Linked DNA regions of Homo sapiens: region 2 is reported to be linked to region 1. Evidence: microRNA targets listed by miRTarBase, many of them from high-throughput screens and not tested one by one. Region 1 holds a microRNA gene; the other region holds the end of a gene's coding sequence.

Region 1 (5,368 bases):
GTGTGGTGCACACATGTGTTATGTCTGAGTGTGCCTGTATGTGTGCTATGTACACGTCATGTGTGAGTGTGCTTGCATGTGCAGTGTGTGGATGCTGCTTGTACCTGTGGTGTGTACCTGTGTCATGGGTGCTCACACGTGCATGGAGTGTTGTGTGTGTGCTTGTGTGCCCCATGTGTGCATGTGTGTGTGCCTCACACAGATGCCTGCATTTGCCTAGGCACTTGCAAGAGGACACCATGCTGGCTCTCAAAGATCACAGGGCCACCTGAGCCCTGTGCACACCACAGCCAGGCCATGGCTAGACCCTGCAGAGCCACAGGGCGATGCCTGTCAGCCAGGGGACCCAGAACACCTCCTGGGCTCCTCCCCAGCACATGGCTGGGCTCCTCCAGCAGGCCTGGATTTGGGAAGGGCCCGTGGTGGGCAAGGCTGGTGCTGGGGAGCAGGCCTGGTGGCCTCAGAGACTCGCCCTGTGGGCGGAGCAGCCTCACAGCCAGGTCGAAGTCAGCACTCTGACCCTGCCCCACGCGGGGAGTGGGCACCAGTCCCAGGGCACAGACGTGCTGGGTGATTAATCTGGGTGATTAAGCCTCGGGCTGAGAGGCTGTTGAGAGAGAACACGCTCCATTGTGGAGCTGGCTCAGCATTCCTTACGGCCATGGTGGCAGGGGCTGTAACCACAGGGACGGCGGAAGTGGTGGAGGGTGGTGGGGTATGGAGGGAAGCCCAGAGGGCTCCGTGCAGGAAGGTGGAGCCTGGTGCAATGGAGGGGACAGCAAGGGCTCCTCAGACCTCTGCGGGGCCCCCACTCCCCTGGTCACCTGTTTTGTCTCTGATCTGGCCTGGGTCGGCCCTCACTCCTGGCCCCACCTCATAGCCCCCCCTGGTGGGGCTCCGCTCCAGCCCTTCTCCTTCCCAGGGGCCAGTATGCTGGCCCCAGGGGTCTCTTGGGGCGTGACCTCGGCCTCCAGAGAACCCTGTCCCAGCTCTGCCCTTCCCTCTGGGGTCTCTGTAGATGGGACGCTGGTCACAGCAGCCTGTCTGATTTGTTCCCTGTGGCCTAGGTTCCTGAGCCCCACAGTGCCAGGGGATGGATGCCACCGGATCTTTGAAAGACCAGTGTCAGGCCGGGCGCAGTGGCTCACGCCTGTAATCCCAGCACTTTGGGAGGCCGAGGTGGGCGGATCACGAAGTCAGGAGATCGAGACCATCCTGGCTAACACAGTGAAACCCCGTCTCCACTAAAAATACAAAAAGTTAGCTGGGCGTGGTGGTGGGCGCCTGTAGTCCCAGCTACTTGGGAGGCTGAGGCAGGAGAATGGCGTGAACCGGGGAGGCGGAGCTTGCAGTGAGCCGAGATCGCGCCATTGCACTCCAGCCTGGGTGACAGAGCGAGACTCGGTCTCAAAAAAAAAGAAAAAAAGGAAAGACCAGTGTCTTGGGAGTTGGGAAACCTGGGCTGGAGACTCACTGCATGACCCCTGAGAAGTTGCACCTCAGAACCTCAGTCCTCGCATCTGCAGAATGGGTCTGTGAACACCTCAGCTGCCCGAACGTGGATGCCGCAGGCTGACCCAGCACTGAGCTCTACCAAGACCAGGGGCCAGCCGTGTGCTCCCTCCAGGCCTGTGCCCAGCGTGGAGAGGCCTCGTCCCGTGGGCGCTGGAGTGGAGCCTTCCTGGTGTTTGTGGACATCTCTGGAGAGGGCCAGAGGCAGGTGGGTGACACGGGGCATGGCTCAATCATGGGTGGTCCAGACTGGAGAGGTACCCTCGGGCTGGGAGCGGGGAGGCTGGCCAGGGTAGACTTTTGGGGCCTCCATGGATACCCTCACCATCTGGAATCGGAGAGGGGCACGGCACAAAGGAGGGCGGGGCCAGGGCCAGGACTGGAGTCGGGGGCACCTCTGTGCCAACAGGGGCCTTGGATCTGGGGTACAGCATGGTTCCCCGGCCCTGAAGGGGCTGGCGTGTGGGACAGGCTTCCCAGGAATGGATAGGCAGGGATGGATGCTGCCTGATTGGGGCGGGAGGCTGGAGGCAGGGCAGGTGCAGGCACCTGAGGGCAGCACTCACCTCCACAGGGGTCCAGGGGCCTCCCCAGCCTCAGCACCTGGCCTGGGCTCCTGCCTCCAGAGAGCCTGGCCCCAAGGAAGAGTCTAGTAAGCTTAGTTCCCATCGGGCTTCCATGAAAGCACAACTGGCCCGGCAGGAAACCGAATTAAAAAGCAATATTTGTATCAGTGGAAGACATTTGCTGAAAGGTTAAATCCACATCCGGCAGTGTGGGCCATGAGCCTCCGGCGTGGTGTTCATCAGGCATGTCTCTCCTCCTGGCCTGGGCACCTGAGCACTGGGGCCGCCCTGGGCAGAGCTGGGGCGGGGTGCTGGGGGGCCTGGAGCTGCCTCACCGAGGGATCCTCAGCAGCCGACCCTGGGGGAGGCAAATGAGACTCTTTCTGGGGACCTTGAGGGGAGCTCGGGGGAGCCATGCAGAGCTTCACCAGGCCTGGACACTGGGCATGGAGGCTGGGCCACCCAAGGGCCATCACCAGGGACTCAGGTGGGTGGGCCTCAGCCCTGGGTGACAGAAGCTCACGGGCCGCAGGGCGAGGCCAGAGGCTGAGCCTTCAGGCTGAGGTCTTGGAGGCAAATCCCTCCAACGCCCTTCTGAGCAGGCACCCAGACCTACTGTGGGCAGGACCCACAGGAGGTGGAGGCCTTTGGGGAACACTGTGGAGGGGCATAGCATCTCCGAGAGAGGACAGGGTCTGCACTGGGTGCTGAGAGACAGCAGGGGCCGAGCGGTAGGCTTCCCTGCCCCCAGGGATGTTCCAGAGGAGCGCAAGGGAGGGGCATTAATATCGTGGCAAGAAAGGGCAGGCATTGCAGAGTGAGCAGCGACGGAACTGGGTTTTGTGGGATGCATAGGAGTTCACCCGGATAAGAGGTGGGTGAGGAATGACACTGCAAACCGGGGATCACGGAGCCCCAAATCCTTCTGGGCCAGGAAGTGGGAAGGGTTGGGGGGTCTTCCCTTTGCTTTGACTGAGCACTCAGCCTGCCTGCAGAGGGCAGCGAGGAGCCACGGAGGGGTGTGGGACAGGGATGCCATGGCTGAAGCAGTTTTAGGAAAGGTCCCAGGGGCTATTGTTGAAGAGAGAACGGGGAGCGGGGAGTCCCACAGCTGACAGGAGCAGAGTGGGCCCTGAGAGATGCCAGCTCTGGCTGCCACAGTGACCAGCCGGGGTAGGCCTTCGAGAAGTCAGGGAGCGTCTAGGGCTTCTGGCTCCTGCTGGGCCCAGGGTGTCATCTTGGGCTGCCAACACCAGAAAGCCCAGCAGATACAGGAAGCCCCAAGCCCTGTCGGAAACGGTTCTTCTCCAGGAGGGACAGCGGTGGCAGCGTTCAGCCGCAGGCCATGCACTCTGGGGCCACGTCCTTCCCTCTGTACAGTCCAGCATTGTCAAGGCAGGCTCTGGCCATCTCTGCTGACCCCAGAGGGATGGGGAGGCCTCCCCTTCCACCAGAAGGGCCAGAAGCCACCCTGGGCAGGGGCATCACTCTCCCTGGGTGGGGCAGCGGCTGGGAGCAGGAGGTGCCAGTGGGCGTGGGCTGGATGCGGGTGCCTGCGGGGCGGACATGGAACTTGGGGGAGGCTCTAGGCTGGGGTTGTCCTCAAGGGAGTTCTCAGGTCACCCCAGGGTCACCCTCAACCCGGGGCCTGGTGGGGTAGAGGAGAAACTGCAAAGGTCTCTCCAAGGGGAAGGCATCAGGGCCCTCAGCACTGAGGGACGTGCGTGCTCTTTAAAGAAGGGGCCACAGGACCCCGAGGGAAGCCAGGAGCTAGCAGTGGGCCATAGAGGGGCTGAGTGGGGTGGGTGGAAGCCGTCCCTGGCCCTGGTCGCCCTGGCAACCCTGGTGGGGACTGTGATGCAGGAGGTGGCAGCCATTTGGAAACGCGTGGCGTCTCCTTAGAGATGTCTTCTTCAGCCTCCCAGGGTCCTCCACACTGGACAGGTGGGCCCTCCTGGGACATTCTGGACCCCACGGGGCGAGCTTGGGAAGCCGCTGCAAGGGCCACACCTGCAGGGCCCGGGGGCTGTGGGCAGATGGCACTCCTAGGAACCACGTCTATGAGACACACGGCCTGGAATCTTCTGGAGAAGCAAACAAATTGCCTCCTGACATCTGAGGCTGGAGGCTGGATTCCCCGTCTTGGGGCTTTCTGGGTCGGTCTGCCACGAGGTTCTGGTGTTCATTAAAAGTGTGCCCCTGGGCTGCCAGAAAGCCCCTCCCTGTGTGCTCTCTTGAGGGCTGTGGGGCCAAGGGGACCCTGGCTGTCTCAGCCCCCCGCAGAGCACGAGCCCCTGGTCCCCGCAAGCCCGCGGGCTGAGGATGATTCAGACAGGGCTGGGGAGTGAAGGCAATTAGATTCCACGGACGAGCCCTTTCTCCTGCGCCTCCCTCCTTCCTCACCCACCCCCGCCTCCATCAGGCACAGCAGGCAGGGGTGGGGGATGTAAGGAGGGGAAGGTGGGGGACCCAGAGGGGGCTTTGACGTCAGCTCAGCTTATAAGAGGCTGCTGGGCCAGGGCTGTGGAGACGGAGCCCGGACCTCCACACTGAGCCATGCCCACCCCCGACGCCACCACGCCACAGGCCAAGGGCTTCCGCAGGGCCGTGTCTGAGCTGGACGCCAAGCAGGCAGAGGCCATCATGGTAAGAGGGCAGGTAGGTGCCCGGCGGCCGCAGTGGACCGGAGCCCAGGGCTGGTGCCAGCTGCCTCTGCTACTCCCCAGCCTGGCTGGCAGCCCCAGGCTCAGGGTCCATGCAAACCCCTGGGACGCGGCGTGGATGTGGAGGCCTGGGCACAGCGGCATCCCCTGTGCCTGGTGTTTGAGTCCCTGTTGGGGGAGGGTGAGGTGATGCCTGTCCCTGTGTGTGCCCCTCTTAGGCCGACCTCTCTCGGGGGTCGTGTGGGTCTCTGTGTCTTGTTTCATCTTGAATCTTAACGATCGGAATGTGGAAACAAATCCATCCAAAAAATCCAAGATGGCCAGAGGTCCCCGGCTGCTGCACCCAGCCCCCACCCTACTCCCACCTGCCCCTGCCTCCCTCTGCCCCAGCTGCCCTAGTCAGCACCCCAACCAGCCTGCCTGCTTGGGGAGGCAGCCCCAAGGCCCTTCCCAGGCTCTAGCAGCAGCTCATGGTGGGGGGTCCTGGGCAAATAGGGGGCAAAATTCAAAGGGTATCTGGGCTCTGGGGTGATTCCCATTGGCCTGTTCCTCCCTTATTTCCCTCATTCATTCATTCATTCATTCATTCATTCACCATGGAGTCTGTGTTCCCTGTGACCTGCACTC
Region 2 (5,368 bases), not on the chromosome of region 1:
TCACCATCACTGTGCGTCCCAAGAACGCAGCCCTGGGTCCCGGGAGGGCTCAGTCCAGCGAGCTGATCCTCAAACGATGCCTTCCCATCCACCAGCAGCACAACTATGCCGCCCCCTCTCCCTACGTGGAGAGTGAGGATGCACCCCCACAGAAGAAGATAAAGAGCGAGGCGTCCCCACGTCCGCTCAAGAGTGTCATCCCCCCAAAGGCTAAGAGCTTGAGCCCCCGAAACTCTGACTCGGAGGACAGTGAGCGTCGCAGAAACCACAACATCCTGGAGCGCCAGCGCCGCAACGACCTTCGGTCCAGCTTTCTCACGCTCAGGGACCACGTGCCGGAGTTGGTAAAGAATGAGAAGGCCGCCAAGGTGGTCATTTTGAAAAAGGCCACTGAGTATGTCCACTCCCTCCAGGCCGAGGAGCACCAGCTTTTGCTGGAAAAGGAAAAATTGCAGGCAAGACAGCAGCAGTTGCTAAAGAAAATTGAACACGCTCGGACTTGCTAGACGCTTCTCAAAACTGGACAGTCACTGCCACTTTGCACATTTTGATTTTTTTTTTAAACAAACATTGTGTTGACATTAAGAATGTTGGTTTACTTTCAAATCGGTCCCCTGTCGAGTTCGGCTCTGGGTGGGCAGTAGGACCACCAGTGTGGGGTTCTGCTGGGACCTTGGAGAGCCTGCATCCCAGGATGCTGGGTGGCCCTGCAGCCTCCTCCACCTCACCTCCATGACAGCGCTAAACGTTGGTGACGGTTGGGAGCCTCTGGGGCTGTTGAAGTCACCTTGTGTGTTCCAAGTTTCCAAACAACAGAAAGTCATTCCTTCTTTTTAAAATGGTGCTTAAGTTCCAGCAGATGCCACATAAGGGGTTTGCCATTTGATACCCCTGGGGAACATTTCTGTAAATACCATTGACACATCCGCCTTTTGTATACATCCTGGGTAATGAGAGGTGGCTTTTGCGGCCAGTATTAGACTGGAAGTTCATACCTAAGTACTGTAATAATACCTCAATGTTTGAGGAGCATGTTTTGTATACAAATATATTGTTAATCTCTGTTATGTACTGTACTAATTCTTACACTGCCTGTATACTTTAGTATGACGCTGATACATAACTAAATTTGATACTTATATTTTCGTATGAAAATGAGTTGTGAAAGTTTTGAGTAGATATTACTTTATCACTTTTTGAACTAAGAAACTTTTGTAAAGAAATTTACTATATATATATGCCTTTTTCCTAGCCTGTTTCTTCCTGTTAATGTATTTGTTCATGTTTGGTGCATAGAACTGGGTAAATGCAAAGTTCTGTGTTTAATTTCTTCAAAATGTATATATTTAGTGCTGCATCTTATAGCACTTTGAAATACCTCATGTTTATGAAAATAAATAGCTTAAAATTAAATGATGCAACTCAACCTTTTCCTTAATGGCATTACACTCTGTCCCTTAAGGAGCAACCATAAATAATCCATAACCTATAGAGGGAATTTGGTTTCCGTAAATAGCCCTTTTTGCACCTGTACAATCCTGGTTGGGGGGCATGAGTCATTGTCCCCACTTAAGGTGGAGGGAACTGAGTTTGGGGAAATTAAGGCAGTTCTCCAAGATTATGCAGAATAGAGATGTTATTAGCGACTATTGTGTGCATTGTAGCAATGGCATTTGATAATTTACAGAGCACTTCTGTATACTGTGGCTCCTTAGTGGAATTAAGCTGAGACCTCAGATCAGTCCCTTTAAAAGAAAAGTAAAAATAGCCACAGGGTTGTTTAACTCGCTTGTATTGGGCTTTGGTAGTATTCGTCCCATTGGCAGACAGTCTTCTATTTTAAGGTAGAGCATAGTTTGTCTCCAAGAATTCATTGTTAAAAACATTCACTAGGATCTGTGGAGGTTCTAGGCTAAGCAGAGTAAGCAGAATAAACAGATGGAAATGGGTTCCTCCCTTCAATGAACTCAACCTGATTCACCAAAGTGTAATTCACGAGTGACAGTTACGTAGTCCAGAGCAAGTACCAGGTGCAGGAGAGACCCTGGGGTCACAATGGAGACCCCATATGGGTGGCATGGCTCTCTACTTGCCATTCCTATTACACAGCAGTGTCTTGGCTACTTGGGCTGCCCTTTGGAAATGGGATCAATCTTGCAGGCTCCAGAAGACAGAGCCAAGACTTGTGTGTTAAGGAGATAGTTTACCTGTTGGGACATAAGAGCCTTGCTTGTAAGCAGCTTCTCAGAACTAAAAGTGTACAAATAACCTATTTCTCTTTTGAGTGTCAGGTTGTACTCGGTTATTTCTCTAGGGTTTTGTTCATCTCAGATTTTTAACTGTGAGCCGAAAAAAAAGAAAAAGGCCTTTTGCTTCACTGAGAAGAAAGCAGGTCCAGAGATGAGACAGCTTTGCTTGCCTGGACACACAGTTTGTCAGGGGCAGAGATGGGAGACACCAAGCCATGTGTCCTTGTCTGCTTTGGTCATTTTTATTTGTTTCTTTTGAGATGGAGTCTCACTCTGGTGCCCAGGCTAGAGTGCAGTGGTGCAATCTCGGCTCACTGCAACTTCCGCCTCCCGGGTTCAAGCGATTCTCCTGCCTCAGCCTCCTGAGTAGCTGGGACTACAGGTGTGTGCCACCATGCCCGGCTAATTTTTTGCAGTTTTAGTAGAGACCAAGTTTCACCATGTTAGCCAGGATGGTCTCGATCTCCTGACCTTGTGATCCACCTACCTCGACCTCCCAAAGTTCTGGAATTGCAGGCGTGAACCACCATGCCCAGCCGCTTTGGTCATTTTATAAAGGCAAGTAGGAGTTTAGAACTCAGTCCTCCTTATCCTGCTTATCGCACACCCTTGAGATACGAGGTTGGTGATACTACCATGGACATCTTTCTGATGGTCTCGCCATGTAGAAAATAAGATAAAATGCCCTTTAATTCTCCTAGTCCCCATCCCCAGACTAAAAAATAATGCACCCTTTCTTTTTGAATTGTCATTCAAAAAACTTCCGTTCGTTTGCATTTTACAGGCCCCAAATCACTCACGGCCTCTGCCCCTGTGTGTGTGCAAGAGCCAAAAGAAAGTTAAGCAACCTCACATTAATTGTGTACCTAAGATTCTTGAAGCCCAGCTCAGTCATCCCAGTTTCTCTATTTGTGATTACCATAAGGAACCTACCTGAGTGTGTCCAATGAAATGGAATGCTTAACCGTGAAGAAAGAAAACTGTTCATATGAATGAGGCCACTAAACTACAATTCCTACTATGCTCTCTTTTTGCTCGGGCTGCTGGGAAGCTCAGAGCCAAATTCCACCCCCTCTAACATCTCCAGTGGTCATTCTCTTCTAAATGTTTACGGTTTCTTGTTTTCCATTGTTAGGTTAGTCATCTTTTTAATGTATATAATGTAGTATATAACATGAAACGTTTTTGCATTAGGTGGACCACAAATATGCACCTAAAGGATTAAAACTAAAGTGAAAAAATCCCATATTTGCCTTTTCTGACCTAGCTGAGGGAATGTCACCAAATTTAGCTCTGCAATTATCTATAAAGTAATTGCTGTAGTCACAGAAGAATTGAACTAGTTGTTTCAATAACATGAGAAACCATCTCTGCATTCCAAGAGCAGTTTTGAGACTGGGAAAGAGCTCTACATCATTTAGTTCAATAAACGATAGAGCTGAGACGAAGCACAGAGATCATCTCATTGAAATTCATTTCTCAGAATGAGGGTGCGGGATCCCACCTGGAATTAATGGCTTAACCCAGGGAGACTAGAGCCGGTGTCTCCTATGACCCGCCCAGTGCCCTTCCCCATAACATTCACTTTCTCATTGCCCACACTGTAGCCTCCCCACCTCCTGGCCTGCCCGTCCACCTACATCATGCTTCCATATTAACCCTTCTAAACCACCTACTCTTTATGCAAACTTCCAACAGTTCCCTACTATTTACAGAATCGAGTCCCGACTCTCCAGCCCAGCACAGAGGCACTTCTACCCAGTCCCACCAGCTCCATTGCCCATGGCCCTCCATGTGCTGGACTCTGGCTGTTTCTCATCCGTGACTTGTTTCACCACATCCCTCCTTCTAGGTTACCCAGATTCCATTAATTGAAATCCTTCTCAATCTTGCACCCCCAGGTAGGCCTTTCCCAGCCCTTGGCCTCTGTGCACTTATCTTCTAGCTGCCTTATGCACCTCCTGGACCCCCTAAACTGTGGGCTCCCTTAAGGCAGATAGGGCTCTCATTTGCCTCTGATTCTGAGCATCTGCCCTGTGACTGACAGGTGACAGAGCCTTAGCAGATGCCAGCAGTATAGACGGTAACAGAGGAAGGAGCGAGGAGAGGATTTCCATTATGGGTGGGTCTCCCACCAACTCCAGTTCACAAGCTCTCAGGCTAATTCAGATGGGAAAAGACATCCCTTAGACATCAATGAGTGTCTGGTACTGACTATGCTGGCAGTTCTGAAGAAGTGAAGATAAAATGCTCATAGAGGACTGTCTACAAGGAGCCCACAGTCTGCAAGAGAGTTAAAGCCCTGGGGGTTGTATAGAAGGCAAGAAGAGAAACCAAGAGGCACTGGGTTGAGGGGCTGATGAATGAAAGCATATGAGGGGCCTAGTGGCTGAGTTTGGGGCTATCTGAAGGAGGAAGCTGGTCCTCTGCCTGGGTTCACTGAGTCTACGCCTGGCCTGGCTTGTGGCAGCTCAGACACTTGCCTCAGGCCACAGATGGTCTACACTCGTAGTGAAAAAGGTTGCAATGCCTCCCACCCCTGTGTAGCACTGCAGAGCTTCCCAAGTTTTTGTATGCATGAGTCTCAAAAATCCTTGAGGATTTTTGACCAGTTTATCACATTCCCACATTATAAGTGAGGGAATCTGGTCTTCTGAGTTTTAGTTTCATTAATCCCTATGGTGGCTATGTTTTGAAATTCTGATGTGAGTTGTTTTCGAAATCAGAGGTTGTTTGATTTGGAAGAGGCATAGAAGCCAACTAGTTTACTCTCCCATTTCAGGGGAGGCACCTACAGTCTGCTTGTGAGAATTTTATTTTTCCTTTATTTTATTTTTCTTTTTTTTGCAACAGGGTCTTGCCGTGTTGCCTAGCCTGGCGTGGAGTGGCTAATCTCAGGCACAGTGCCACTGCTGATCAGCACAGGAGTTTTGACCTGCTCCATTTCTGACCTGGGCCAGCCAGTTCATACTTCCTTAGGAAACCTGGTGGTCCCCTACTCCCAGGAGTTGCCATATTGATGCTAAACTTAGTGTGGACATCCAGTAGGCATAGGGTGCTACAGCTCAGAACTTCTGGACTCAAGTGATCCTCCTGCATCAGCTTCCTGAGTAACTCGG

Evidence for each region. The annotated mature microRNA hsa-miR-4686 reads UAUCUGCUGGGCUUUCUGGUGUU and lies in region 1 at 3,327-3,349, opposite strand. An mRNA with a match to its seed (bases 2 to 7 or 8) in the 3' UTR can be bound and repressed. Matches are read on the target gene's strand: a 7mer-m8 pairs with bases 2 to 8, a 7mer-A1 pairs with bases 2 to 7 and ends in A, and an 8mer does both.
Region 2: miRTarBase lists MYCN as a target of hsa-miR-4686. Seed matches in the 3' UTR shown: 7mer-m8 at 855-861.

Annotation. Positions count from the first base shown.
Region 1 is chr11:2,171,053-2,176,420 of GRCh38, reverse strand. It overlaps MIR4686 (microRNA 4686), which reads right to left and starts at 3,358; the gene lies at 3,283-3,358. It overlaps TH (tyrosine hydroxylase), which reads left to right and starts at 4,606. Exons shown (of 13, transcript NM_000360.4): 1 at 4,606-4,724. The coding sequence starts at 4,635.
Region 2 is chr2:15,945,592-15,950,959 of GRCh38, forward strand. MYCN (MYCN proto-oncogene, bHLH transcription factor) reads left to right here. Exons shown (of 3, transcript NM_005378.6): 3 at 1-1,413. The coding sequence ends at 506. It also overlaps the pseudogene RN7SL104P. Among named protein-coding and RNA genes, the nearest start is that of MYCNOS, 6.6 kb to the left of the region's middle.